Homo sapiens: one gene and its partners. The protein of the gene in region 1 binds, or shares a complex with, the protein of each later gene. Each region holds a gene or a part of one and is shown in the gene's direction. Other genes may lie near its edges. The genes, in order: PPP1CC, MKI67, CDCA2 and MRAS.

The links.
Region 2: the proteins of PPP1CC (region 1) and MKI67 are in contact, whole or in part, in a crystal structure (PDB 5J28), measured with the Homo sapiens proteins. Residues at the interface, in NP_002701.1 of Homo sapiens: Val19, Arg20, Gly21, Ser22, Lys23, Pro24, Lys60, Tyr70, Asp71, Leu73, Arg74, Glu77, Tyr78, Lys168, Ile169, Asp242, Leu243, Tyr255, Phe257, Arg261, Pro270, Asn271, Ser284, Asp286, Thr288, Leu289, Met290, Cys291, Ser292, Phe293; in NP_002408.3 of Homo sapiens: Arg504, Arg505, Val506, Ser507, Phe508, Gly509, His511, Leu512, Arg513, Pro514, Glu515, Leu516, Phe517, Asp518, Glu519, Asn520, Leu521, Pro522, Pro523, Asn524, Pro526, Leu527, Gly530, Glu531, Ala532, Pro533, Lys535.
Region 3: the proteins of PPP1CC (region 1) and CDCA2 are in contact, whole or in part, in a crystal structure (PDB 5INB), measured with the Homo sapiens proteins. Residues at the interface, in NP_002701.1 of Homo sapiens: Arg20, Gly21, Ser22, Pro24, Lys60, Tyr70, Asp71, Leu73, Arg74, Glu77, Tyr78, Asp166, Lys168, Ile169, Asp242, Leu243, Tyr255, Phe257, Arg261, Pro270, Asn271, Ser284, Asp286, Glu287, Thr288, Leu289, Met290, Cys291, Ser292, Phe293; in NP_689775.2 of Homo sapiens: Lys391, Arg392, Val393, Thr394, Phe395, Gly396, Asp398, Leu399, Ser400, Pro401, Glu402, Val403, Phe404, Asp405, Glu406, Ser407, Leu408, Pro409, Ala410, Asn411, Pro413, Leu414, Gly417, Gly418, Thr419, Pro420, Val421, Cys422.
Region 4: the proteins of PPP1CC (region 1) and MRAS are in contact, whole or in part, in a cryo-EM structure (PDB 7SD0), measured with the Homo sapiens proteins. Residues at the interface, in NP_002701.1 of Homo sapiens: Pro178, Asp179, Gln181, Gln185, Arg188, Ile189, Met190, Thr193, Asp194, Pro196, Gln198, Leu201, Trp216; in NP_001078518.1 of Homo sapiens: Ala5, Ile31, Gln35, Lys36, Ile37, Val39, Asp41, Glu47, Asp48, Ser49, Leu51, Lys52, His53.

Annotation. Positions count from the first base shown.
Region 1 is NC_000012.12:110,739,874-110,746,757, reverse strand, and holds the start of PPP1CC (serine/threonine-protein phosphatase PP1-gamma catalytic subunit), read left to right. Parts: upstream 1-3,866; 5' UTR 3,867-4,050; coding exon 4,051-4,105; intron 4,106-6,884. UniProt on the Homo sapiens protein: Protein phosphatase that associates with over 200 regulatory proteins to form highly specific holoenzymes which dephosphorylate hundreds of biological targets.
Region 2 is NC_000010.11:128,123,409-128,130,689, reverse strand, and holds the start of MKI67 (proliferation marker protein Ki-67), read left to right. Parts: upstream 1-4,266; 5' UTR 4,267-4,591; intron 4,592-4,933; 5' UTR 4,934-5,022; coding exon 5,023-5,114; intron 5,115-7,281. UniProt on the Homo sapiens protein: Protein that associates with the surface of mitotic chromosomes and acts both as a chromosome repellent during early mitosis and chromosome attractant during late mitosis.
Region 3 is NC_000008.11:25,462,224-25,469,243, forward strand, and holds part of CDCA2 (cell division cycle-associated protein 2), read left to right. Parts: intron 1-3,951; coding exon 3,952-4,102; intron 4,103-5,993; coding exon 5,994-6,190; intron 6,191-7,020. UniProt on the Homo sapiens protein: Regulator of chromosome structure during mitosis required for condensin-depleted chromosomes to retain their compact architecture through anaphase.
Region 4 is NC_000003.12:138,343,585-138,351,587, forward strand, and holds the start of MRAS (ras-related protein M-Ras isoform 1 precursor), read left to right. Parts: upstream 1-4,994; 5' UTR 4,995-5,183; exon of another isoform or gene 5,184-5,448; intron 5,449-5,627; exon of another isoform or gene 5,628-5,795; intron 5,796-6,099; exon of another isoform or gene 6,100-8,003. UniProt on the Homo sapiens protein: Signal transducer in the Ras-MAPK signaling pathway that regulates cell proliferation and survival. Core component of the SHOC2-MRAS-PP1c (SMP) holophosphatase complex that regulates the MAPK pathway activation.

The DNA of each region.
Region 1 (6,884 bases):
AGATTGTTCCTGCCTCAGGGCCTTTGCACTTGGTGGTCCTTCTGTTGGGAATATTCTTCCCCTATGCCAATCCTTCCCATGACTTTCTCTTTTTCATCCTTCACATCTTGACTCAAATGTCAAATCCTCAGAGTCCTCCTATGTGGTCACATGACCCTTTCTAATTTTCTCACGAAATCGCCACTCTCTGAAATTATCCTCCTCAAATGGTTTATCTGTTCCCCTCTGTGTCTTTCTCTAGACTGGGAGCTCCATGAGGACAGGGACTAAGTCTGGCTTATTCACTGCTATGTCCCCAGCTTCTCACACAGTGCCTGACACCCAGTACGGCCTCGACAAACGTTGCCCAAAAGAATACAAGTGTCTGCCGGTAACACTACAGGATGCAGAGATAGAACTGTGGACGTTGTCAAAGAGCATTCACCCGTATTTTTTCCCCATGGTTCCCTCCTTTGTATAAAACCCCTGGAATATCCAGGGAGGTCTAGATTTGCAGGCAAACTTCATCACCAACACTCAACACTTCTTTCTTTTCTTTTTTTTTTTTTTTTGAGACGGAGTCTCATTCTGTCGCCCAGGCTGGAGTGCAGTGGCACGGTCTCAGCTCACTGCAACCTCCGCCTCCTGGGCTTAAGCGATTCTCATGCCTCAGCTTCTGGAGTAGCTGGGATTACAGGCACCCACCAGCACGCCCAGCTACTTTTTGTATTTTTAGTACAGATGGTGTTTCACTATATTGTCCAGGCTGGTCTCGAACTCCTGGCCTCAAATGATCCACCCACCTCGGCCTCCGAAAGTGCGTGAGCCACTGCGCCCAGCCACCAACACTTCTTCCAATCATCTCACCACAATCCTAATGCTCATTAAATTGGAAGGACGGAGAGAATAAAGTTCATCCCCAGCCTTCTAGAACAGAGTTCCAAATTGCTGGCCTAGGGCCAAATGTAACCCACAGATATGCTTTGTCTGCCTCACACTGTTTTAGAAGATTTTGAGTTCATGACCGACTTTTTAAAATTGGAACATTTAACATAAAAATCCATATGTTCAAGTTTTACCAAAAACTCAGAGGATCTGGCCACAAGTGGCCCCAGGGGACTGGAGCTGAGAAGTGGCCGCCCCCTTGGATGAAACGTGGGCTCAGTTTGCTCCAGTCCCTACCCAGAGGCTGAATTCTTTCGTATTATCAGCCAGGTCCCTTTAGGCACTGGGATCCCCCCTCAAAGCCTAAGTATCCTCAGAGACACTATTGAGTTTCCAATATTTGGCCACAGCCACTCTCTTCTAATCATCAGCTCCCCATCATCTTCAGCAGCCCCTAAGAAAGCTCTGTAGAGCCAGGAAAGACAGTTTGAAAAGTGCACTTTAATCCACTCTCCTCATTTGACAGATAGGCAAACTGAGGCCTAGAGAGGGGAAGGGACATTCCATTTATTAGGCTGTATCCTTTCTGACAGGATGCTTATATCAACTCATCTTTGGAAAGCCACTGGTGCTGATAATGGCAGAAAAAGGCGAATAGGGAATCAGTGCTTTCCTCCACCGGCTATTTGCTGGTTCCTGGGAGCTGTGAGGGCCCACCCTGGTGAGCTATGCCATGCTCAGGCTCAGAGCCAGCTAATCACTTAGGCATGTGCCAGCAGAACTGAACTCTGGAGGGGAGTTGCCCAGCAGAAAACAACCTGGGGACAGAGGCTCTCCCCATGTCCCAGCTCAGTCTGAAGTCCTCCTCCAGCCCTGATGATGTTGCAAGAGGTTAACACACCTGCCATTTTGCATGAGGAAAATTATGGCACTCGTATTGTGGGCAGAGACACAATTCAGTCATTCCACTGGGTTCCAAATTGATATGTGCCCAGTATGTGCCAGGGATGTGAACACTGCTGGGGGTTCACTGCCGGGTTTTACTGAATATGAACGAGGGCTGTGGTTTCAGGCTGTCCTGAGTTCCAGCCCTGACTCTGTAACTTCCTGGCTGTGTGACCTTCAGCAACCACCCTAGCCTCTCTGTGCCTCACTTTCTTCATCTGTAAATGGGGATGATAGGAATAGGACATAATTCCTAGGATTATCTTGGGGATTCAATGAGATCATTTTTTGGCACATACTAAGAAATGAACACAGTAGCATTTTTTTTCTTGTTTATTTTTCTCCACTGCACTTATCAGAAGCTGATATTTTTATTTGCATCTTTGCTTACCATCTGACTGACTAAATGACTCTCCATAGAAAAAAGCCTTGTCTGTCTTGATCACCCCTGCTTCCCTGTCTAGAACAATGCCTGGCACAGAGTGGGTACTCCATAAATATTTGTCTGCTGAATGAATTGCTGTCTTTCATATTTCTACCCTAAATGCCATTCCGATGATGCACCCTGCCCTGGAGTAGCCCAAAGTCCTGTGGACTCCAGCAAGAGCCCCCCCTGACCTCCATAGCCAGATGTTCACAGCAGCGCTGGGCACCAACTCCGAATGTCACCAACTGGGCTCATTGCCTTGGCCTGACAAATGGCACTTATGTGACTTCTGGTGGACAGAGCTGTAGCAGGGGAAAGTGAGTTAGTGCCTGAGGAAAGTGGATCGATAGGCTGAGTTCTGAAACTCAAGGGCCCTGCACCAGTAGCGAGGGGGCCCAAGTAAGGGGACATGGAGCCCGCACCCTGAGGACATTGCTTTGGAAGAGGATGCCTGGGTGGTGCAATTACCTCGTGGCATACTGAGATGGGGATTCGTGCATCCTGCACGCCTTGGGAAACAAAATGAATTTCTCGGAGAGAGGGGGCTTTGCAAAATGTAAAGCGCTGCAGGAAGCAACGTACATGGAAAGGTCAGGAAAGAGAGCCGATCTGTTTGCTGAGTGTGGGCTGTACTTCCAAACCCAGCCAAAGTCGACGCGCAGCCCCTGGAGGTGGCACAGTTTGGGGGCCCCTTGGATAGGAGTGCCCTCGGGGAGGCTGGGAAGCCAGAGAGGAATGGGCCAAAGTTTCTTCGGGTGTCTGCAGAACCCAGGACCGCCCGCGCAGCTTGCATCTTCTCTTCCCGCCCCCGGCCTGCACGCGTGAAATCTGCAAATTCCCCTTTTAACTGCTGCACGCGCTCGTTCAACTTTGCCCTGGCTAGAATCGGGATAACCGTCCCGATGATTACATAACTTTCCGAGTTCAGGGAAGATAAATCCAAGGGACAGAAATGATAAAATTTTCTTTGAGTATGGATTTTTTACCCCTAAAGTTACAGAAGTGCACAAAAAATATATATACAAATACCCATATACCCACCACTCACAATGAGTTAACTGTTACATTTTGACTTATCTGAAAGAGGGTTTTTTCTTTTTAGTTACCAAATAAACCTTTCTCTTGTCCCAAGTTCCAGTATATCTGAATCCAAAATAAGTCAACCTTCTTTTCTTTATTATTCTTTTCCATCCTCACCCCAGATTTATCTTAAAGGGTAAGTTCCAGGACCCCCGAAATCCCTCGGTGAGCTCCCACCTGTCCAGGTCTGCAAACATCTAGACTCAATGCACAAGATCCGGCGATGGCCGCAACCGGCGGTGTGCACAGCTGCATTTCCTCCCCCAGCCCCAACTCCCGCGTGCAACTTTGCAACTCTCGCTCGGGCCCGGCATTGGGGGCGGGCCTATTTACTCGGCCCGTTTGGCGGAAGGATCCCATGCGGGGACGCGGTTGCGCTCAGCCATCTGCGCCCCGCCCAGCGCCCGGGCCCCGCCCCCTCCAGCGCCCGGGCCCCGCCCCCTCCCGCGCCCCCTATGGCCCATAAAGAAGTCCCGGCCGGGCCGCTGCACTCCCCGCGCGCATCCGTGCGCCGCCCGAGGCTGTCTAAGGAGTCGGCGGCCATTTTGTTCTTCTCGTGGTTCCAGTGGGGAGAGAAGGAGGAAGTAGGGAGCGGGGTGGCAGGGGGGGGACCCGCCGCGGCTGCTGCCACCGCCGCCACCACCGCCTCTGCTCGTGGCGTGGGAAAGGAGGTGTGAGTCCCGGGCGCGAGCCGGCGGCGGCGCCGCTGCGGGAGGGTCGGCGGTGGGAAGGCGATGGCGGATTTAGATAAACTCAACATCGACAGCATTATCCAACGGCTGCTGGAAGGTAAGGGGGGCGGCGGGCGGCTGAAGGGGGAGGCGGGCCTGAGGGCGGCAGGCGGCCCCGGGGGCTCGAGGGAGGGGAGTTGGGAGGCCGGTTGGGCTTGCAGCACCGTGGGGAGTGAGCTCCTCGAGTTGGCCCACGGGCCGGGGACTGCAGCCGGAGGGAGGCCAGCCCGGGATTCCCAACTTGTCGCCAGCTGCGGACCCTCCAGGCTCCGCTCATTCATTGCACGAGGATGCAGGCTTCCTCCCGGCCGTGGAATTTGAAAACTCCGCTCCCCACCCCCACGTTTCCCGCCCCTACCCGTTTGCCCCCGCGCACTGGACGGGTCTTTGGAGCGATGGTTGGGGATCCCAGTCCAGCCTCCTGGACGACGTGTGCCGTGCTGTGCGAGATGGACTTTTCGGTGCTCGTCCTCTCGGAAGGCAGTTTGATGAGGGCATGAGTTCCGCCGGGTTTGGGGGCTCTTTTCCTGCTTGCTTTTATTTTTATTTTTCGTGGTTCTGGGGTCTTGGGGGGCCCATTTCTTGTTACTTGGTAACAAGCGTTCATGTCTCAAGAGGTGTGAGAACCTGTCTTCGCCTGCCCTCCAAATCCTTTTAAGTTGTTCTAATCTTGGAGAGGTCTCCGCGCTCTTTTCCTGAGCGTGCATCTGAAGAGGAAGCCAACGAGGCTGACGCTATCATTATCTTTCCAATGTGCCAGGCTCTGTCTTAAGCACTTTGCGTCCATGAATTATTACTGTAATCATAACTGACGCTTCTAAAGCGCTTACTGTGTGTCAGGCATTCTTTGAGCACTTAAGACAGATTTCATTTAATTCTCCCACCCATTGCAAGATATTTGCAATTTTTTTTGTTTTTGTTATTTTACAGAAGAAACTGAGATGAAGTCACTTAACCAAGGTCACACAGTTAGTGACAGTTGGATTTCAAATCCACATAGCCGGGAGCTAGAACCCTCTACAGACAACACTGTCACCTTATGTAGGAAGGAAGGTGGCCAGTGGTTAAGTAAAGGTTAATAGAAAGCTTTAAATTTCGGCTCATCTAAGACTTGTGAGGTGCCTGGCAATTGATTCATGTTGATGTGGGAGAGGGGCGAGGTTCAGCTTTTAAAGACGGAAGCTGAAATGAGCTGCTTTCAGATTCAAGGGCATGTCAACGGATGCTAACATCTTATCCAAGACTTTGTAAGAATTCAGTCATATCCCCTAACTTGGACACTTCATAATGGGAACTTGGCAGTTTCAACTGCTTTTTGCCTTTATACAGTCCTAAAATATTGTTGGACTATAAATGCTGTGAGTGGTGGAGTCGAGGGCATGAACAGTTGGACAGCTCTGGTGTTAGAATTTACAGATCTTTTAAAGTAAGTTATTAAAATGAAGCTCCTGAAAATATCTCGTCCTTTTCTTAATCTGTGCATTCTTTCCTTTTATGCTGTCTTTAAAAAAAAAACAACAAAAAAAACACTAAATGTCATTAAGGACCCCTGAAATGCTCTTGAAATGTTATTGCAGGTGAAAACCTTGTATTGTAGGTGAAAACCTTGTCATTCTTTTAATGCCAGGTATTTATATAAGAACCATACTTTTTCATACTAGTTAATATAGTTCTTTAATTTATTCGAGGCAGCAGTTGGTCAGAAACTGATTAAAATAGTTTGCTGTAAGAAAGGAACTTTTTGTTAAATATTTTCTTTCTAAATTTTAAAATTCTGCTTATCTCTGCAGGGATATGTGTGGCTTTATTTCTCTGAGGAAACAGGAAAAGTTGGAATTTGCATGGATTAGAAACATTAGAATTTTAAGATCATCTAAGGCTTGCTAATTTAAGTTCTGGTTTGCCCATAACTGCCTCTATTCATAAACAGCTTTTGTTAATTTTGATCTTTAAAATTGTAATAAGTACTTTGCCTGGTAAGTAATGATACATCTAAAATGAGATCATTGTTTCTTAATAGTTCCTCTTGTTATGTGGCACTTGAAAACCAGGTTTTCTTATATTTCATTTTTTGCTGAAATTAATAAAGCAGTGCATTTTAATGCCTTGGGAATAGGCTAACTGCAAAGTATACTTAAATTTCTTTTTTTCTCGTGGGTGTTAAATTGGCAGAGAAACAGTTGAAGATGATCCATTGAGGATATGTAGATATCTAAGTTAAATGATGTTGGTAATAAATTCTGTTTTACAATTTTTTATTTAAAAAAATTAAATTTAATAATTTAAAATAGAAATGAGAGTCTCACTGTGTTGCCCAGGCTGTTCTCAAACTCCTGGTTTCAAGCAGTCCTCGCACCTCGTCCTCCCCAGGTGCTGGGGTTATAGTCATGAGCCACCGTGCCCGGCCTAAATTTTATTCTTTTCATAATGCCCCCAAAACCTTTTTTTTCCCTAAATAAGATGTAAGTATATCTGAAAGTAGAGGGAATATGACTTGTGACTTTGGCCAGATTTTTTTACGTGTTTAGAATTGATCTTTTAAGCTTGCGAGCAGTATAACCTAGTTGAGAAGTAGCTGAGTAATAGTACTAAAAAGCTAACTGAAAAGTGAAGTCTTAAGAAAAACAGCATGTTGGTTTAGATCTTAGTCACTAACCTTTGCAGTTCTTTTCTTCTCTGAACTCTGAGTATTTCTGTAAGCGAGGCATCACCTCTGCAACCCACCATGGATGCTTTTATCCAAGCTCTGCCTTGCTGATGATAAAACTTAAGGTTGTTAACTCCTTAGTATAACTGATGTTAGTTATTTAAATAACTACACAGTAAAACGGCATTTT
Region 2 (7,281 bases), on another chromosome or scaffold:
GTGGCATATGCCTATAGTCCCAGTGACTCGGGAGGGTGAGGCAGGAGAATTGCTTGAACCCAGGAGGTGGAGGTTGCAGTGAGCCGAGATCATGCCCATTGCACTCCAGCCTAGGCAACAGAGCGAGACTCCATCTCAACAACAACAAACAACAACAATAACAGCAAAAACTGCTAATAAAAATTTTAACGAGAATATTTCAGGAAGTGAATGAGTTGTGTTCATCTTCAAATGTGTGAAAAATTATTCAGTGAAAAGATGGGCAGCTTAGTCTTATGTTGCTCTAGACACTATCATCAGGAGCATTGGGTACAAATAGGAAAACAATCAGAGCAGTACATACAGGGAATGTGTATTCTGCAGTCAACATAATTGTTGGAGTTGTTAGAGAGGTTACTAGTGTGTGGAGAGAAGTATGACGAAAGTCCAGTCATGAAGAGTTTTGTTTTGTTTTAGCAGAGATGACTAAGTGATAAGAAATTCATTTGATGCCTGTGTAATGGGGCATTTTGCTATAATGTAAGCTGTTATAATCAGACTTTTCTTGTTCATAGATTGGCAAAGCATCATATTGGATATCTTAGATTACTGACATCTTAAAAAATTAATCAGCCTAATATTTTTAAATGCATTTCTTTTTGAGTTTACTTTTAGTTGAATTTTGAGATTTGTTTCAATCATTATTGGAATTTTGTAGATGTCTTCTGATTTCCCTAGGGAATGCCTTTGTGTCCAAGAACAAGAAACATAACCAATAAAGAACAATACATCCGTAGTTTTCCTATATTAGTAGAAACTATTTAAAGGAGATGAAAATGGAAAGAAGATCATGAAAAAAATAAAACTCCAAAAATGGAGCTACAAAACCGACTTGTAGGTCCAAGATCAATGAAAGTAGAATACGGAAGTCTGGAAGGAACTATACATTGTCCCTGACTTACGTAACAGAGAAGAAAGTTGGGAAGAAAAGTGTGGGCAACCTCCCCACAAGAGACCAGATTAAAAGCCAGGAAGAAGTCTGGGCACGGTGGTTCACGCCTGTAAACCCAGCACTTTGGGAGGCCGAGGCGGACGGATTGCTTGAGGTCAGGCGTTCGAGACCAGCTGGCCAACATGTGAAAACCTGATTCTACTAAAATTACTATATATATATATATATATATAGTAATATATATACTAATTATATATAGTATATATACTCTATATATAATTGTTATATATAGTATATATACTATATATAATTACTATATATACAGTATACTATATATATACACACATACTATATACTATATATAGAGACAGTATACTATATATATACACACATATATATACATATATACATATATATAGCGACAGTATACTATATATATACACACACACACACACACACATACATATATATACACACACACATAATATATATATATATATAAACTGTGCGTGGTGGCTCACACCTGTAGTCCTAGCTACTCAGGGGGCCGAGGCAGGAGAATTGCTTGAACTCAGGAGCCAGAGGTTGCAGTGAGCCAAGACTGTGCCACTGCACTCCAGCCTGGGTGACAGAGTGAGACTCAGTCTCAAAAAAAAAAAAGTGAAACCCCATCTCCACTAAAAATACAAAAAAAAAAAATAGCTGGGCTTAGCAGCAGACACCTGTAATCCCAGCTACTTGGGAGGCTGAGGCAGGAGAATCGCTTGAACCTGGGAGGCGGAGGTTGCAGTAAGCAGAGATTGCACCACTGCACTCCAGCCCGGGGGACAGAGTGAGACTTCATCTCAAAAAAGAAAAACAACAACAGCAACAACAGAAAAGAAGTAACTCAAAATGTTTCAAAGAAGTAACTCAAAATGTTTTTCTTTCTTTCTTCCTTTTTCTTCTCTCTTTCTTTCTTTTTCTCCTCTCTTTTTCTTCTCTCTCTCTTTCTTTCTTTCTTTTTCTTTCTTTCTTTCCTTCGTTCTTTCTTTCTGTCTCTCTCTCTTTTCTATTTTTTTTTTTTGATGGAGTCTCGCTCTGTTGCCCAGGCTGAAGCGCAGTGGCGTGACCTTGGCTTACTGCAACCACTGCCTCCCGGGTTCAAGTGATTCTCCTGCCTCAGCCTTCCGAGTAGCTGGGACTACAGGCGTGTGCCACTACACCCGACTAATTTTTGTATTTTTAGTAGAGATGGGGTTTCACCATATTGGTCAGTCTGGTCTTGAATTCCTGACCTCATGATCCACCCACCTTGGCCTCCCAAAGTGCTGGGATTACAAGCATGAGCCCCTGCGCCTGGCCTAGCACCTTCTAGTTCTAATTAGGCTGCATCCATGAGGGTGGAAGAACTGTCTCTGGAAACAAGCAGTAATTAGGATGAGAAAAGTTGTGTTTTATGGGGTTATGCAGTGGTGGGCTTTGTTTGATCGTTTAATGGGGGAAAACATGGAAACTCATGCCCCCTAAAACGTTTATATAATAGTATCCCCGCACTGAATTTTTCTACGTCAGACTTGGCCCATACAATTTAGAGTTGCTGTCCTGTGCTTTTATGTTGCTTTCCCAGTTTCTCTATTTCCATCAGCAGCTGATATCTTTGTAGTTGCTCTAGAGCAGAGGGCTCAGTCTTTTCAATCTTGTGGTCCCTTTACACTCTTAAGAATTATTGAGAACCACCAGGAATTTTTGTTAATGTGGATGGGTTATATCTAGCTATATTTATATATTTTAAGTTAAGGCTAAGGAATTTAAAAATATTCATTTATTGATTCATTTTAAGATAGTGATGCACCTATTTCATGCTAACACCAATAACTTATTTTTATGGAAAAAAAACAACAAAATGAAAACAGCGCTTTAGTTCACATTTTTGCAAATCTCTGTAATACCTGGTTGAAACGGAGACAGTGGGAGTCTCCTCACTGCTTCTGCATTTGCAGAACCACACCCCACACTCTTGGGAGCATGAGAATGAGAAGGGCAAGTAACACAGAGGGTCATTAGATAAATGGTTTTGACCTTATGGACTCTCTGAAAGGAATAGGAAGTCCTCAGGGGTCCCCTGCATCGAGGCCTCCCTGATCAAGGGAGCCAAGCTCCAAGGGTTGCTGGGGAGCTGGAGGAGGTGAGATGGGGCAGAGAGGCCGTTGTCACCAAAAGCGTGTTTAGGCTCCATTCACTTCACCCCAGGTGGCCTACTGAGCCCACATGGCCACCAGCGCAACTGAAGCAGACCCCGATAGAATCCTGTGTAGAATTATTTTAGGATTCACCCATCTTGGCATGCACAAGCCATTTCAATTGAAGAATGTTTTCTAATAACAAAACATTGTAAACCTAAGTATGTGGCAATAGTAATGATTAAGTAAATTATGGTTTCCCGAAGCCCAGTGCTCTGCAGCCATCAGAGAGTAAAAGCGAGAATGTGTTCAGTGGAGATAGCCTCAGGATATTTAAAAGCAGAGAGCACAAAGTATAGAATCGTGTTGTGTATGTTATGACCTTTTTTTCTGTGCTTTTGAAAAAGAGAATACACGTATAGCAGGAAAAGACACACCAAACTACTTTATATAATTGGTTGTTTTTGTGTTTGGTAAGATGTATGCACTGAAGAGGAAGGTTTCGATTTTTTTTTTTTTTTTTTTTTTTTTTTTGAGACAGGGCTTTGCTCTGTCGCCCAGGCTGGAGTGCAGTGGCGCGATCTCAGCTCACTGCAGCCTCGACCGCCCCGGCTCAAGCGATCCTCCCACCTCAGCTGTCCCAGTAGCTAGAACTACAGGGGCGCCACCACGCCTGGCGAATTTTTTGTAGAGATGGGTTCTCTCCAGGTGGCCCAGGCTGGTTCTGAACTCCCGGGCTCAAGGGATCTTCCTGCTTCAGCTTCCCAAAGTGCGGGGATTACCGGCGTGAGCCACCGCGTCCCGCCTGTTTTTAATTTTTAGCAGTTTTAAATCTTCTGGCAATGAGTAATGTTATAGTGTCCCAGATGTTTGGTCCTTTAAGAAAAGGATAGCAGGACGGGTTATCTCGGTGGGAGCGTGTTCCACCTCTGCCCTCCGCCAGCCGCCCTCGCCGGGGATGCACCCAGGTATTTTCCTCCGGATGCGTGAGTGGCTCGCCCGCGGACACGCCAGCCCCGCCCCGCGAGCCCGGTTTCCCCGCCCCCTCCCCGCCCACGCCCTGCGCTCCCTTCCTATTGGTCCCATGCCGCGCTTTCCCGTTCAATCGCAGCGCTTAGCGCCAGAATTTGAATCTTCGTTTTCGTTTGAATTGGGCGGGCGCGCCGGGCTGGAAGAAGGAAGTGGAGGGCTGACGCTGCGGGCGGGCGGGCGGGCGGGAGGACTCGACTCGGTGGGAGCCGCTAGAGCCGGGCGCCCGGGGACGTAGCCTGTAGGGCCACCGGGTCCCCGTCAGAGGCGGCGGCGGGAGCAGCGGGGACTGCAGGCCGGGGTGCAGCGAACGCGACCCCGCGGGCTGCGGCCCGGTGTGTGCGGAGCGTGGCGGGCGCAGCTTACCGGGCGGAGGTGAGCGCGGCGCCGGCTCCTCCTGCGGCGGACTTTGGGTGCGACTTGACGAGCGGTGGTTCGACAAGTGGCCTTGCGGGCCGGATCGTCCCAGGTGAGCTGCGGCCGGGACTCCTGGGAGCTGTCCGGGGTCGAGGGCTGAGCCGCGGGGACCCCCCGAGCTCTGCGGGGACGGGCAGGGGACAGACGCGCGGCCTGGGCCCGACTCCTCCTGGGCTCTGGCGAGGGCGTCTCGGTGGAAGCTCCCAGGAGGCGCAGGCGCTGGCGACAACACCCCAGCTGCCGGACTTTGGGGCGCCGGGGGCTGCGGTCGGATCGTCCTGGGGTCCCCGCTAGCTAGCTGCGGTGTGCGCTTCTGTGGCCGGGGATAGGTGAATTGGGCACGGGGCCCTTCTTAGCTCCTTTGCTATCAGAGTAACTCGCACCTCTTTTGCAGTGGAAGAGTTGTAAATTTGCTTCTGGCCTTCCCCTACGGATTATACCTGGCCTTCCCCTACGGATTATACTCAACTTACTGTTTAGAAAATGTGGCCCACGAGACGCCTGGTTACTATCAAAAGGAGCGGGGTCGACGGTCCCCACTTTCCCCTGAGCCTCAGCACCTGCTTGTTTGGAAGGTGAGCCCCGCGGGCGCGCGCGGACGTTTTAGCTGAGAAAGAGGAAAATACCTTAGTCACAGAATAAAGTCCAGAAACGCGCTCTAGGATTGGGTCCTGCCGTCACTTTTCCTTGGTGCTTCTCCCATTCGTTACTAAGTTGACATAGTTGTGTTTTTTTGTTTTGTAAGTATAAATTTGATGCTAGTTTGTATGTTTAAGTGGTTTTAAAAATCAAGCCAATTAAAAAAATCGATTTGCTAATGTTGCGGTAAAGAAAGATGTAGATGATCTTCATATGTCACTGGCTGCAGGCAGGCGTCTGAAGACACTGTGCGCCCCCGGGTGCCTCCACAGTGGGCATCCCTGGCCACTGGGGACACAGAGAATGAAGGAAGGAAGCCATACACTTGTCTCTTGGCTCCTTGTGGCAATAGGAAAATGGGACAGAAAGTCTTCCTGCCTGGAATTCGAGAACGTTTCCTCTTATATTGCTGTCCTGTTTGGTGGTGGTAATAACCCTGTCCCTGTATAACAGGTATAGTTGCTGACAGTGCCCCATCAGCCTCTGACATGTGTCCCACTAGAGGCCTGAGAAGGGGGGTCATTTCCCGTGTGGTCATTTCCCAGACCACACGGGATTCAGGCCTCACCCTGTCCTCCCAACCCCATCCCGGCCTCACCCTGTCCTCCCAACCCCATCCCCTACCTTGTTCCTCCCGCCTAAGGCATTCCAAGCCTTTGTTCACCTTGGTACTTCTTACACACTTGGAAGTTTACAATGGGAAAGTTCTCCCCTTCCTCAAGCTTGTGTGATTTCCATCATTCAGGCATCAGGTGAAATGTCACCTCTGAGGAAGCCTTGCATGAAAACTTGTATTTCCAACCCCACAGCTTCAGGGGTGAGTTGTGGGTTTGTCTCCCACTAGGCTGAGCTCCCCAAAGGCAAAGACTGTCTTGTTACTAATCACGTGTGTAGGGCCAGGGATGGTGTCTGGCATAGGGGGTGTGATCAATACCTAGCATTCTGGCAAGGGTCAGTAGAAACATGGGCTGGAGCCATGGATTTGCAATCTCTTGAGAACAGTGGTTCTCACAGGAGGGTCATCTAACCTTCCAGGATTCATTTGAATTTCCATGTCACAATATAGGACAGGGGCATGCGCTGTCATCGCGGAGGAGAGGTCAGGGTGGGCATCCTACCAGGCTCAGGGCAGCCCCCACAATACAGAAGCATCTGGCCCAAGATGTCAACAGTGCCAAAGCTCAGAAACACCCATCTATAGTCGTCCTCCTGCCAAACAAATTCTCAGTTGTAAGGGATAGTCTTTCCTTTGCTCTGATGTCCTGTTACCTTAAAATCAAATTATTTTATTGGGGTTAAGGAAGCTTTTCACTTTCCATAGATACCTTTCTCTTGAAAAGGAAAAATATAAACATTTCATCTCCAGTGGCAGTCCTTTTGCTTTTTTATACAGTACTCCTTGAATATATCTTCATGCAAGATTTTATAATTTAGAAATAATTCCTAAGTGTTTGGTCACATGACCTGGGTAGGAAGAGAGATTCTTAGACTCCAAAGGTTCAGATGGAGAACAGACAGGCCATTGCATAGTTTATTCAAATTTTTAAGATCACAGGCTAGAACAGGAACACTGAAGACTCCAAGAACCTACTAACAAACTCTTCTGATTATTAGTTTGTATAGGTTTAGGAATTGTCTCTTCTGCTACTTTGCCATGGTGTTAGCTTTCTGTGGAAAAACAAGTTGAATTTAGATTTTTTTTTTGTGTCGCTTGCAAATTAGTATTTTTATTGTTTAGAGACTTGAATCTGTCAGTAAATTCAGTGTAGTTTTAAAACAACAATGAAAAGCTTACCCATAATGAGCATTTACTATGTGCTAGGCAAATTAGTGACATGTACAACCATTTAATTGAACATCACATGATGTAGGTTCTAATGTAATTTCTTTATTGTATATGAAGAAACTGATGCACAGAAGTGCTAGCATCAAATAAGCACATTTGGGGATGATTAAACCTCTAAACATATTTAACATTACAAACAAACGTTTTTGAAAAAGCACAGAGTATTAAAAATAGTCATTATCCAAAATTGATGTAAGTATTCCTTTGTGTCTTTTAAGTATAGCTTTTCATATAAAAGGTAATTCGATTTGTGTTCT
Region 3 (7,020 bases), on another chromosome or scaffold:
AAGTTCTGTCGTGAATTCCGTTAATGAAGCTTTTGTGCTTTCTTTACACCTTCTAGTGCATCTGCTCTGTTTCAAATCTGGAGGGAGATTTTCTCTGTGTTTTAGAGAACATGCAGTTAGCGGCCGGGCGCGGTGGCTCACGCCTATAATCCCAGTACTCTGGGAGGCTGAGGCAGGCAGATCATTTGAGGTCAGGAGTTCGAGACCAGCCTGGCCAACATGGTGAAACCCCATCTCTACTAAAAATACGAAAATTAGCTGGGTGTGGTGGCAGGTTCCCGAAATTCCAGCTACTTGGAGGCTGAGGCACGAGAATTGCTTGAACCTGGGAGGCAGAGGTTGCATTGAGTCAAGATCATGCCACTATGTTCCAGTCTGGGCGACAGAGTGAGACTGTCTCAAAAAAAAAAAAAATGCAGTTAGCCTAAATGATGATGTTGACCATGGGTGATTTTTCTTTGTTTGCTTTGTTTTAGAGACAGGATCTCAGTTGCCCAGGCTGGAATGCACTGGTGCAATCATAGCCCACCGCAGCAATGAACTCCTGGGCTCAAGGAATCCTCCCACCTTAGCTTTCCAAGTAGCTGGAACTATAGGCATGTGCCACAGCAATGGGCTAATTATAAAAATTTTTTTTTGTAGAGATGGGGCCTCACTATGTTGCCCAGGCTTATTTTGAACTCCTGACCCTAAGCAATCCCTATCAAAGTGCTGGGGTTACAGGTGTGTGCCACAGTGCTCAACCCAAACGAGGGTATTTTTAGAGTTATGAGACCCTGGATAGAAATAGCTTTCTAGAGGAGCTTTTTATTTTATTTCTCAATTTTTTTTTCTAGTTAAGATCTACTTTTCTATGAGGTGAGGCACTACTACCTTTTTAAGAGCTTATCTCTAAGTTACTGATTTTTTCATGACTACTGTGTGTTGATGTATAGGGGCAAGGGTCTCCTGGACAAAATGTATTTGGGACAACCTTGTGGAGAGGAGTAGATTATTTATCTGCTGATGGGGATATATTTAGCTGTTTTTTCAAATTTTTATACATCCCCCTAAAAAGTCAGATACAGTCTTGTGCTACATAATGACATTTTGTTCAGTGATGGACTAAATATACAATGGTGGTCTCATAATAATGGAGCCGAAAAATTTCTAAGGCCTGGTGATGTAGCTCATATAACATCATAAAACAATGCATTGCTCATGCATTTGTGGTGAGGCTGGTGCAAACAGTTCTACGGTGCTGCCACTTGTATTAAAATCTAGCACAAAAGGTTACCTACAATACATAATACTTGATAGTCATAATGAATGACTGTTCCTGGTTTATACATTTACTATAGACTTTGTATCATGAATTTAAAGTGTACTCCTTCTACTGATTAAAAAAAAAAAGGACCTTAATGTTGTACGTGTGTTGTGCTGGCAGCAGCCTCCTACGTTCTCCCTAATCCATTGGCTATCCCACAGAGCAGTCAAGGAGAGGCATTCATTTAAAGTAGAAATCGAATCATTCACCCGGCTGCTCAGAATCTTCCCATGGCTTCCTGCGATCCCTTGAATTAAACCTACACCCCTTCCTGATGCCTTCGTACGCCCACTCTAGTCTCTCCCCATCTCCTTCCACTCACAGGGCACACTGGCTTTTCTGCCCCATCCTGTTTCCACTCAAGGCCTTGGCCCTTGTTCTTGGAGAGTACCTCCCTCCTGTGACATCTTCCCTTAGACCTCTTTCTCATTGTTTTGGCTTCAACTCAGATTTTACTAAAGATAGAGGTCTGTCCTGATTCTAGCTAAGCCAGCACTTTTAGGGACTCAGCCACATTCCTGATATTTCTTCTCAATAGCACCTCTTTTACCTGTAACTACGTTTATATGTTTTCAGAATTTCACTCTAAACGGTAATTTCCCTGGCTGGGTATGGTGGCTCACACTGTAATCCCAGAACTTTGAGAAGCAAAGGAGGGAGGATCGTTCGAAGCCAGGAGTTTGAGACCAGCCTGGGCAACATGACAAAACTCCATCTCTACAGAAAAATTTTAAAAATTATCTGGGTGTGGTGGCACATGCCTGTAGTCCAAGCTATTTGAGAGGCTGAAGTTGGAGGATCGTTTGAGCCCAAGATATCGAGGCTGCAGTGAGCTGTGATTGTGCCACTGCACTCCAGCCTGGCTGATAGAGCAAGACCTTGTCTCAAATAAAAATAAAGTAATTTTCCCTAGATCCTGAGCCCCTCAAACAGTTTGTGGTGCATGGAAGGAAGGTTGTTGACTGACCGACACAATTCCTAAAACAAAAACATCAAAAAAGCAGTACATTTTGAATGTTTCATTTGCTTTGTATGTAAACATTGTTCTCCTTCTCCAGTAGAAAATAGAGAAAAAACAATTTTGACTAGAGAAACTTAAAATTTTTTTAAGCAGCATTTCAAAGTGCTGCATGTTCCTAGGATATTAAATCTGCCCCTACCATGTTCAAATATGTGTGCAAAAAAAGCACATTCAAAGTAAATTGTATGAATTTGAGATCATCTTTTCCCTGTCGTTCTGTTAGATGAATTGACATAAGCCTTTTTTGAATATTATTGCTGTTTATGTCGTGAACGTTTGTGTCATCAAGGATATTTCAATGTAAAATGTTCTCATTATGTAATAGAGAATTTGCTTTATATTTAACTGGGAAGAGAATCAAATGTGTGAACAGATCACCATCAAACATGGCTTCACGATATGAACTGCTTTTTCTCCCTGTGATATATATATATTTTTTCTGAGACCAAGCCTTGCTCTGTTACGCAGCCTGAAGTACAGTGGCATGATCTCGGCCCATTGCAACCTCTACCTCCCAGGTTCAAGCGATTCTCCCACCTCAGCCTCCCACATAGCTGGGATTACAGGCATGCACCACCACGCCTGGTTAATTTTTGTGTTTTTCGTAGAGACATGGTTTCACCATGTTAGCCAGGCTGGTCTCAAACTCCTGACCTCAAGTGATCCTCCCACCTTGGCCTCCCAAAATGCTGGGATTACATGCATGAGCCACTGTGCCCAGCCTACTCTGTATGATATCTTAAACGGAGGTAATTTTTACTTCACTTTTTGCCCATTGGTATAATTTTTAAACATTGCCACAAACTTCATATCAGTGGAAATGTTAGTAGTCCAAGTAATAAAAAAAAATCTAGATAGAGAACTTCATTTGTAATTTAATTTTTATGTAAAGGGAACTCTCAATTTTTATATTACTTGTCTTTAACTGGCACTTCTATCCCTGCTAATATAAATTTCATTTTATCAGTCTTTGGTTGGAACCCTGTTAACGGGGTTTCCAGAGAGCTTCTGTGCTTATACCATCAAACTTTGTATTTTAAGAGAATGGCTGGCTTTCAACCCTAAGAAGGAAATATCCTCCAGGTCCCATACAATCAGGAAAATTAGCTGGGAAGAGCCAAAAAGGAGAGCAGTGCAAGTGTAGTATCTGAGCATGTATGGAACTTCTGTGTCTCGTTCTGGCCCCTGGGCTGGAGGGCATGTGTAGACCCGTGCTGAGTAGAAACAGCTTGGACTGAAGGAGGTATGCTGAGACTTACCTGTGACACAAGCACCATGCAGATGGCTTCCTATGGATACATCCAGCACAACATTTGGTAAAAATTGCAAATAGACAGGTTCCTCCTGTCCCTTTTTTGTTGCACCATCCCAGAGCGCAATGTTTTTTTGGCACCTTCCATATAATCTTAGGCTGGCCTCTCAACATTTTTGTGTTAAACTTCCTTATTCAAACTGAAAATGGGTAATTCCAGGGTGAAGAAGCTCTGCCACACTAACTCCTTACCGCTGATCTTCAAAAAGCATATGTGTACTGTATTTAATTTTGGATTCAATGGCTGTAGGCCTAGAATATAGAAAGTATGAATTGATTATAATACTCCTTGTATATTTTGCACTTTCACAGGGCAGCCCTGCACTGTATCGAAATGTTAACACTTTAAGAGAACGAATATCAGCCTTCCAGTCAGCTTTTCACTCCATAAAGGAAAACGAGAAAATGACCGGCTGTCTGGAATTCTCAGAGGCAGGAAAAGAGTCCGAGATGACAGACTTGAGTGAGTAGAAATAATTCGTTCAGTTTTGACTTCAATATTTATAAAGACAAGCTTCTGAGTTATGAAATGATTTAGTGTGAAGCCAATCTTTTCAGAACACAGGTATATTTATAAAGTGAGACTAACATTAAAAATTTGGGACATTTCACACAAAAATAAGGATTTCTGGTTTCTCTTAGAAAAAAAAACCTGTTATCAGGCATTCCTAATCCTACATTTCCGCATGGTTGCAATTAAATTTTAAGTTTTAAAATGCCAGAGATAATTAGCTCATTTCACCTTTACCATAGAGCTTGTGGCAAATTTGAGTTTACAAATCTTGATTTTTACAGGATTATTATTAAGCTCGGCAAGCATTTAGTAAATGAAATAAATTCATATAAATTTTATATGAGTACCAAACACCCAACCCTGATGTTAAAAACAAATATATTCAGCCAGGCGCGGTGGCTCATGCCTGTAATTCCAGCACTTTGGGAGGCTGAGACGGGAGGATCACTTGAGGTCAGGAGTTCAAGACCAGCCTGGCCAACATGGTGAAACCCTGTCTCTACTAAAAATACAAAATTAGCCAGGCGTGGTGACACATGCCTGTAACTCCAGCTACTGGGGAGGCTGAGGCAGGAGAATCACTTGAACCTGGGAGGTGGAGGTTGCAGTGATCCCAGATCGTGCTATTGCACTCCAGCCTGGGCGAAGAAGTGAGAGTCCCTTTCAAAAAAAAAAAAAAAAAAAAAAAAACACACACACACACACAAATATATCCAATCTGATAATCTGCTATATTCTTTAACTCTTAGATTGTAATTCATTTGGTTGTTTTTTCAGTCTTTTTTTTTTCCCCCCCAATCACGAAGCATTTCAGATACCAGAATGTGACAAAATCTTGGTCTTACTGTAATCATTATAACCATTCTCTGGTACTTTACACACTAAGGTTTCAAATGATTCTGTTTTGAATTCTTGAACCATCTTTAAGTGCATTTCAGCACCTCCCATGAGGATTGCTCTGTTAGCCCAAGACAAGTCCCCCTCATCTACCTCTAGAGTGCGTGACCCATTCAGATGTACCGATTTATATTTGTAGTTTGTGACTCACTTATTGTTTCAGTTTTTTCCTGGGTTTTAAAATTTATTTACATCATTATAATTCTGCAGACAGTTCCTTTTTTTTAGCTAGAAAAAAACAGGTACGTTGTGGTTGTCTTTTTCATAAAGTCATACAGAGTATTAGAGCATAACCACATCTTTCAAAATAACAGGTGTCATCATTTAAAAAGCGTGAGGTACCATATTAGACATGCAAAAGTATTTTAGTATATCTTTGTACCTTTTAAGGCCTGAAAAAACTTAATTCTAATAATATGAATGTATTATCTTTTCAATAGACATGTTTTCATTCCTTTCAGTTAGATTTAATTTTTTTTGGAATAAAAAAGTGTGGTAGATTTTTCTTTTCATTGATAATTTAGACTTAAGCACTAGATTTTACTAAAATTACGATGCACAATAGCCGGGCGTGGTGGCTCATGCCTGTAATCCCAGCACTTTGGGAGGCTGAGGTGGGTGGATCACCTGAGGTCAGGAGTTCAGACCAGCCTGACCAACGTGGTGAAACCCCATCTCTACTAAATATACGAAGATTAGCCAGGCATGGTGGCATGAGCCTGTAATCTCAGCTATTTGAGAGGCTGAGGCAGGAGTATCACTTGAGCCCAGAAGGTGGAGGTTGCAGTGAGCTGAAATCGCACCATTGTACTCAAGCCTGGGCGACAAGAGTGAAACTCCGTCTCAAAAAAAAAAAAAAAAAAAAAGAAAAGAAAAAAAATATATATAATATATATGAAAACATTTATGCCTGTGTCGTTTTGTTTTTATTTTGTGTTTATAGCCAGAAAGGAAGGTCTCAGCGCTTGCCAGCAGTCTGGGTTCCCTGCAGTGTTGTCCTCCAAACGTCGGAGAATATCCTATCAGAGAGACTCTGATGAAAATCTGACGGATGCTGAAGGAAAAGTAATTGGTCTCCAGATATTCAATATTGATACAGACAGAGCATGTGCAGTTGAAACTTCTGTAGATCTTTCTGAGGTAATTCACTTACTTTACGCATAGGAAAATGAAGTTGTTGGTTTTCTGCATAGGCAGTTTTAAGGCTGTCAGTGCCGTTCTTCAATTTTAGTACCTTGTTCTGCCCTGTGGTTCCTGGGGTGTGTGTGTGTGTGTGTGTGTGTGCGTGTGTGTGTGTGTGTTTCCTACCTGTTAATTTTATGGTTGCTGGTATTTATCACTTATTAGAAACAGTTTGGATAATGATCTCACTTTTGACTACTAACCTTACAAAGAGAGTAAGCCCTGGGGTCTTCTACGTATGAGGTATTCTAGAGGGTGATGCTCCAAGAAGGGAGGAAGTTACAGTCTTGCCCTTAGGCAGTATTTTTTCTACTGGGGAGCAGGGTATAAGCAGATGGCTTCAGTGGAGCTGGTGGATCAGGTGGAGATTCTGTGTGGGGTGTACTCCACAGGCTTGGGAGTCTTGCACTTATACCTGCCCCTGACTGCTTTCCTTCTGATGGAAATCAGGGTGCCATTCAGCAATTTCTCCTTTGCTCACTTCTTTCAAGTAGCTCTAGGGATTTTTGTGGCTTATAACTACCTAAACCCTGTCAAGACGATCAAAAGGCGATATTAGAAAAATAATACTACTGAAGATCAGTTGACCTGCGCGCACGCGTGAATGGAGAGCTGGTCTCTCGTGACGGACTTTTCTTACTTCATGCTTCTAGTTCTGGTTTGACACAGTAGCTCCTCATGGCCTTTGTGAGAGGAGACACCTAACACCGTTACAGTTGGAACCCTTTCTGCACTTTCTCTGTCACTTAGATCCAGTGCTCGTCCTATTCGTTTTATGTGGACTGGCA
Region 4 (8,003 bases), on another chromosome or scaffold:
TTGGCTCACAGTTCTGGAGGCTGGGGAGTTGAAGAGCATGGCACTGGCATCTGGTGAGGGCCCTCCCATGGCAGAAGGCAGGCAGAAGCTAGCATGAGACAGAGAGAAAATTGGACCAAACTTGTCTTTTCTATTAGGAACCCACTCCCTGTAATACTAACCCATTCCCACAGCAATGGCATTAATCAGCTGTGAAAGGCCCCACCTCTAGCAATTAATTTCAACGTGAGTTTTGGAGGAGACATTCAAGCCACAGCAGGGTAGCAGGGAGGAGTAAAGATGAGAAGTGATTGGGCCTGGATTGGTAAAGTCCATGAAAACTCTGAAAGCAGAGTATAAGTTTTTGGCATTACATCATGGGCAGCCCAGGGGAAGAAAGGCCTTGTACTTGGCACAGAAGAAGGGTCAGCTTGAGGAATGAATAAGCATAGGTCGTGGGGGCAAGGTTCTTTTGCTAGCCCATGGTTGGTGCTTCAGGGTCACCAAAAGATCTAATTCCAGCCGCAGGCCCAGTGACTAGAATGAGCACTCGTCTCCTATTCACCTTATCCCTGCTCCGCCAACACCAAACACACACTTGTCCATCAAGGCCACTTGGCATGGGAGAAGAGTATAGGCTTTGTGGTCAGAAGAGCCTGATTCTTAGTCTACCAGCTGTGTAGGATTGGGCTCACAGTCTCCTTATATCTAAGACAGGGCTCAGATGACCTACAGCACAGGGTCAGACCCATCACTATGTCTGGTGTCAGGCACGCTGTGAGTGCTCAGAAACTCACGGCTTCTTTTACCCTTAGGGAATACACTGAAGTTGGGAGGTTTTTTGTTTGTTTGTTTGTTTGTTTGTTTTTGAGACAGAGTTTCACCCTTGTTGCCCAGGCTGGAGTGCAATGGTGCGATCTCGGCCCACTGCAACCTCCACCTTCTGGGTTCAAGTGATTCTCCTGCCTCAGCCTCCCAAGTAGATGGCATTACAGGCATGCGCCACCATGTTTGGCTAATTTTGTGTTTTTAGTAGAGGTGGGGTTTCACCATGTTGGTCAGGCTGGTCTCAAACTCCTGACCTGAGGTGATCCACCTGACTCGGCCTCCCAAAGTGCTGGGATTACAGATGTGAGCCACCGCGTCTGGCCTGAAGCTGGGAGTTCTAGAGGAAGGCTGGGCCACAATGACCTGGTTGACTTCCAGCCCCAAGGTCCCAAGCCCCCACGTTTGCTGCTGAACTAGGCACCAGTTTGGATTGGCTCTGAGGCATGGCACTCAGCAAGCCTCAGGGCAGAGAGGCAAGTGTAGGACATGTTGCAGTGGATGAAGTATGTTTGTTTTGTCCTGCTCTGGGTCAGTTCAGTGGCTCTGACTTTAGCCAGAAATTGGCTCCTGGCCCTGTGTCTGACCTTGGACCTCTGTGGATTAAATTTGGGCCTGAGCCTTGCCTGGGTTTTTGGCTAGGTGTCTGGCCTTCTGCCATGCCTCAAACACACCTGATCAGCCAGGCACATCTGCCAGAGACTTTGGAAAGACTTCTGCTCAATCATCCTTCAGCATATAAGGTTTTCTCCTTCCCTTCTCAGCCTAGCTAATTTTTGTTTTTTGAGATGGAGTTTCACTCTGTCCCCCAGGCTGGAGTGCAGTGGCAGGATCTCAGCTCACTGCAACTTTCGCCTCCCGGGTTCAAGCAATTCTCCTGCCTCAGCCTCTCTAGTAGCTGGGACTACAGGCACCCGCCACCACACCTGGCTAATTTTTGTTTTTTTTTTAGTAGAGACGGGGTTTCACCATATTGGCCAGGTTGGTCTTGAACTCCTGACCTTGTGATCTGCCTGCCTTGGCCTCTCAAAGTGCTGGGATTACAGGCATGAGCCACCACACCCGGCCCTAGCTAATTGTTATTTGTCCTTCCAGATGTGGCTCAGTCATCAGCTCTCACAGAAGTCCTTCCCTTGGCACTTGCCTCCTCGCCATATTGGATTAGGTGCCCTTCCTCTGGTCTTCCACAGTCCCTGTGCTTCTCTGTTCCACACCACTTGCTCCTCAGTTGGCACTCAGCTTGCTTGAAGGCAGGTCTCTGCCCCAGTGCCCGGTACTCAGTAGATGCTCTGGCAGTGTTTACTGGATGAATGAAGCTTTTCTGCTCAGTGGCTCTGTTCTCTAAGCCCCCATTTGCCAGCAACTGAGCCACAACTTGTATTTCAAGGTTCAAAGAGCAGAGGAGGCAGCTCAAATGGAACAGCCCATCCGCAATCGCAATCTGCAAGATTTACTCTCACCATTAGGCAATCTTAGGTAGGTCAAGCACAGTGTCTCACACTTGTAATCCCAGCACTTTGGGAGACCCAGATAGGTGGATTGCTTGAGTCCCAGGAGTTCGAGATCAGCCTCGGGAACATCTCTACAAAAAGTACAAGAAGTAGCCAGGCATGGTGGTGCACACCTATAGTCCCAGCTACTCAGGATGCTGAGGTAAGAAGATGTCTTGAGTCCGGGAGGTCGAGGCTGCAGTGAGCTATGATGCTATGATCATGCGACTGCATTATAGCCTGGGTGACAGAGCGAGACTCTGTCTCAAAAAAAAAAAAAAAAAAAAAAAAAAAAAAGGAGAATCCCAGGTACCTGGGTATGACTATTAGCTGTTTAAGTTCCATTTCTGAGAAGAGGTATTATTACAGATATGTGTATAAAAGCAGTATAAAGACATCTCTTTGACTCTTGCATAGATGTTGGCTCAGCTCAAGCTGAGGGCATGGTCAGGGTCTTGTGCCAGTCAGGGCCCAAGAGAGGACATCTCTTACATGGGGAGCCCACGAGGGGCTGACAGGCCACCAGGATGTACAGATCCCTGCCCGCCTTCCCAAGTTCTGTGGTAAATAGAGGGGGTTGAGGGAGTCAGGTTCCAGGGCAAACCTAGACAGTCGAGGTAAACTACTGTCCCTCAAGCCTTCTCCCCAACCAGGTCTTTTACTCCCTACTGCCAAGGAGAGATACTCTTGATGGCACCCAACCTGCTGTCCCCTTCCTGGGGGACACTTGGGGTCTACAGGGTCTTTGGAGCAGCAGGTGGGAGTGGAGGCACAGGGGGTGCACAGCAGCTCCCACCAAATGGCTGCATGGGTGGCTGGGATGCCAAAGGAAGCCTGCATGGGATTAAGAGCCTCAGCATGGCAGGCAGAGCCAGCAGCACTGTGAGGCTCCCTTAGGCCTGGGGCAAACCTGAGAAGGGAGTGGGTTCCCTGGACATGTAAAGCTGGTTCTAAGTCATTGAGGTCCACCCAGAAAAAGAATGTCCTCAGAAATGATGCTGACAATCAAAACCACAATGAAATGCCATTTCGCCCCCAATAGGATGACTAGAATAAAAAAAGACACACAATTACAAGTGTTTGCAAAGATGTGGAGATATTGGAACCCTCATATGTTGTTGGTGGGAATGTAAAATGGTGCAGCTGCTTTGGAAAACAGTTTGGCAGTTCCCCCAAAAGTTAAACATGGAGTTAACATATGATCCAGGAATTCCACTCTTAGGTATATACCCAAGAGAAAGAAAAGCATATGTTCATACAAAGACTTGTACATGAATATTCATAGCAGCTTTATTCACAGTAGCCCCAAAGCAGAAAACTAAATATCCATCAAGTGATGCAGGGATAAACAAAACGTATAGACATACAGTGAAATATTACTCAGTCATGAAAAGGAATGAAGTACTGCTACATGTTACAACATGAATAGATCATTAAACATTGGTTACTGAAAGAAGCTAGTCATAGTCACAAAAGGCCACATGTTGTATGATTCCGTTTATAGAAAATGTCCTGAATAGGGAAATCCATAGAGATTGAAAGTAGATTAGTGGTTCCCAGAGGCGGAGGAAAGGGGTGAATGAGGAGTGACTGCTAACGGGTAGTTCTTTTTGTGAGGGGCAGGGGAGGGGAGTGGGAAGTGGTGAAAATGTTCTGGAATTAGCTCATGGTGATGGTTGCAAAACTTTGTGAATATGCTAAACACCACTGAATCGTACACTTTTTTTTTTTTGAGACAGCGTCTCACTCTGTTGCCCAGGCTAGAGTGCAGTAGCGCAATCTCGGCTCACTACAACCTCTGCCTCCCGGGTTCACGTGATTCTCCTGCCTCAGCCTCCCGAGTAGATGAGATCACAGGCACGTGCCGCCATGCCGGGTTGACTTTTGTATTTTTAGTAGAGACGGGGTTTCACCATGTTGCCTAGGCTGGTCTTGAACTCCTGACCTCAGGCGATTCACCCGCCTCGGCCTCCCAAAGTGTTAGGATTACAGGCGTGAGCCACCGCGCCCGGCTTGAATTGTACACTTCAAAAGGTGGAATTTTATGGTGTTGAATTATATCTTTATTTTTTTAACGGGGGGAAAATGACGCCGCTGGAGAGGAGTTAGCGGAACTGAAACAATGAAATGGTGCGCGAGTGTCGCCTGTCCCCGTCGCATCCATCCCAACGAAGTTTGGGCCCTGGAACGGTGCACCCAGAAGGCCTGCGGGGAGAGACGCTGGGGCATGATCTGGAAGAAAGACGTCTCAGGATTCGAAGGGAATGCAGCTAAGGTGGCGGCGGAGGTTCGCCTAGGACTGGGGAGGCGTCCCTAGGCTCAGAAGTTGGCCCGGCCGGAGCGGAGATTTAAAGGTTGGAGCGCAGAGGCTCTTAAAGAGGCCGAGTCGAATTCCCACTCGGCGTCCACCTTAAAGCCAGCTCCCCGGCACCACGGATCTGACCCGGGTAAGTGCTGGGCCGCGGGAGAGGCTGCGGCGCCGACCCCAGCCCCTGGCGCTCTAGCGCGCCCTGCCGGGCCCAGGGGACTCGGCGCGGGTGGGCTGGACTTCGTAGGCGCGCGTCCTGGGGGCCGGGGTGCACGCGGGGGCGACAGGGTCGAGGCACCCGGCCCGGGCTCCCCACTGGCGCGCCCGCAGCGGCGCTCTATTTTTAGCAGGCGCTGTGGCAATATAAGGAATGCGCGGCGCGCTAGGCGCTCGGGGCGCACGCTGGCGGCGCGGTCGCTTTAAGGAGGCGCCGGGGCGGGGACGGACCGGAGTGGCCGGCTGGCGGGGAGCCGTCAGTCCGGCGGCCGCGGGGCCCGGCGGGCGCGACGCTGCCTCCTCACCGGCGCAGGCTAGGAGGGGGCGGCCTGAGTGCCGTAGCCGAGCCGGGGCTGGAGCGCGCGGTGAGTGGTCGGGCGGCCTTGGAGGGGAGGGGGCCCGGCCGCGCCGCCTCTCGCCCCGGCCGTCGCTTTGTTCCGGGGCGGGAGGTGTGGCCGCCCTCCGGGCTCGGCCGCGCTCTCCGCTTGCGGGGTGCGCCCTGGGACCGGCTGTGCGTGGCGTTTTGCCCCCATCGCGGGCTCCCGCGTAACGGTGTGCGTTCGTGAAATCGGCCACGACCAAGACCCCAGTGGGGAGGGCCTGCGCGCCGCTCAGAGAGACCCTTTCATGGTAATTACAGTTCCTTGGCTGCCTGGGCGAGAACCCGGTGGATAGATGGGCGGCAGGACGGGGCGGCGGGGGATGGGTGGGTGGGTGGGGGACTCTTTACCCCCCCGCCTTAAGATGGCGTTAACGAGGGGAGGGATCCGCCAGGGAGTTGACAAATTCATCTGAATAATAAAACGCAGCCTGCTTCATAAACAACCCTTCACTGCCCCCGGAGGTTTGGGGAGCTGGAGCTGTGGTCACAACTAGGGCCTGGGCTCATGCATTGAACTGATCTGGCTGAGGCATCAGACACGGTGCCAGTCCTGCCCTGCGGGGAAGACAAGAGCACAAAGTGACAAGCCAGTGTGGTAAGTGCTGAGATTCGGTAAGCCCAGGGGTTGTGGGAGCCCCTAGGGGTCCCTACTGCAGAGTGGGAGGTGAGAGAAGGCCGCCTAGAGGAGTTAATGTCTGGCTGGCCGCAGCGTATACACTGGACACCCAGTTAGACTCTGGCTAGAGCTGAGGTCTGTTCTGGCCTGGGGCAAAGTGGAGTCTGGAGAGGTGGACAGAGTCCATCAAGGCCACTGGGGCCTTGATCATAGAGCTCTGCCATTGCCCCTACTCCCCAATGGCCCCTGATGGTGTGGAACCTCCCTGGCCTTGCTCCTCTAGGACTCACTCTGTCCTGGACCTGACCAGAGAGGGTGGCTGACAAGGCTCGGAATCGTGGCCTCCAGAGGTTTGTCTGGCAGCAGAAGTAAGATGGAGATATGACTTTAAGAGCTCTGAAACTCCACTGTAATAACAGCAACCAACAGGGCTTCCAAAGACCAGGCACTTGAAGTGGATTTGCTCATCATTTGACAAGACACCTCTTGACAAGACACCTCCAGAAGGATTTTGTTTATTGTAAAGGATGGAGGAACTGGGGTGAAAAAGAGCCAACAGCTTGCCCAAGATCATATCTGAAGTCCATGCTTTTGGCCACGTGGCTGTCCTGGGCTTCGGAAGGCTCTGGTGCAGCCTGTGTTAGAGTTTTGTAATATATTGTTTTATAATTATTCACTATAGACATTCACTGGTGGGTTGAAGTGTGAGGCAGTGAGCTGTGGGTATTAATAACTGACTCGTGTCAGAAGCTTAGCAGTGAACAAAGCACTTTCTCGGATACGGTTCTTAGAGCTTCTCCTGCTTCTTTTCCCGGGGAAGAAACTTGAGCTGCTAACATTTTGTAAACCTCCTAATTTCCTGTAAATCACATGTCCCTGCTGAGTGGGGCTGAAAATGTTTCGGGCAATGGTTTTCACCCTTAGGTCTGTTCACACTGCCCAGCAGCCAGTTAGCTTCTCTCTGTAGTTTATGGTGTAGTTTGTCCTTTTTCTGCCGGGGTGGGAGGCATGGGGCTTTCATGCTCTGGGGTTTTTGAGGTCTGCCAGCCTCTGGGGAGGGAGGTGTTGGGCAAGCCTCGTGCTCTGGTGGAAACTGACCCCCTAGATGTGACCTCGGCATTTCCTAAAGCTGGGGGCGGGACTGGGGTAGGCGGTAGTCAAGGCCCTTTGGTGAAGCAAGCGATTGTCTCCAGCGTTGTCAGCTTCGCTCCTCCATAAGACAGTTGCTAATTTCCACCTCTGTTTTCACCTACATAAGACACTTTATGACAGGTTTAACTTTTATGTTATTATTAGCTCTAGCCACTGGTATTTCATACTCAGTTCGTCTGAGCTACTTATAAAGTGACAAGTCCAGCCAGGGCAACATGGTGAAACTCCGTCTCTACAAAAATTAGCTGGGCCTGGTGGCATGCACCTGTAGTCTTAGCTACTTGGGAGGCTGAGGTGGGAGGATTGCTTAAGCCCAGAAGGCAGAGGTTGGAGTGAGCCATGATCACGCCACTGCACTCCAGCTTGGGTGACAGAGCAAGACCCTGTCTCAAAAAAAAAAAAAAAAAAAAAAGTGACAAGTCAGTTACCCTTGGGGTTGGTTTGGTTCCTAAGCTCTAGTGATCACCTGGAACCAGGAATGACTATTGGCCTCTGATAAATTAGGCTCCTGGGATGACTGGTCCTAACCTCAGTCAGAATCACATGTTGACCAGCCTCCTGGATCTAGTGAGTTCTCAGGGAAATGTGGCTTCCATAATATATTTCACATCAGATTTAACCATTGTAATCTGTTCTGCCAATGAAATGCCCCCAAACAGAGTGTGTCTCCCTGAAAGCAATTGAAAAACATACCTGCTCATGAGCATTGTGTAGTTTGTACAAGCATACTCATGTGAACTGAATGGGAATGCATTCTTGTGCAATGCTGGAATGTTCTTAAGTGTCCAGAGGATGTGCATTGAGTTCCAGAGGCTCTGTACCTGCCAGGCCCTGGGCAGGCATAGAAGGTACAGTCACCTTTATCTGGAGACAGGTAAAAAAGGAGCTGGAGGAGTTCCCTGAGACCTGGGACACCTGGCAGGTACCCATTGTCTAGGGACTCAGCAGAGAATTCAAGCTTTAAGAGGAATTTTCTTGCTGGACTCTGAGTCCCTGTCAGCCCTCCTAAGTCTTAGATCATGCCTCTGAGCCCTG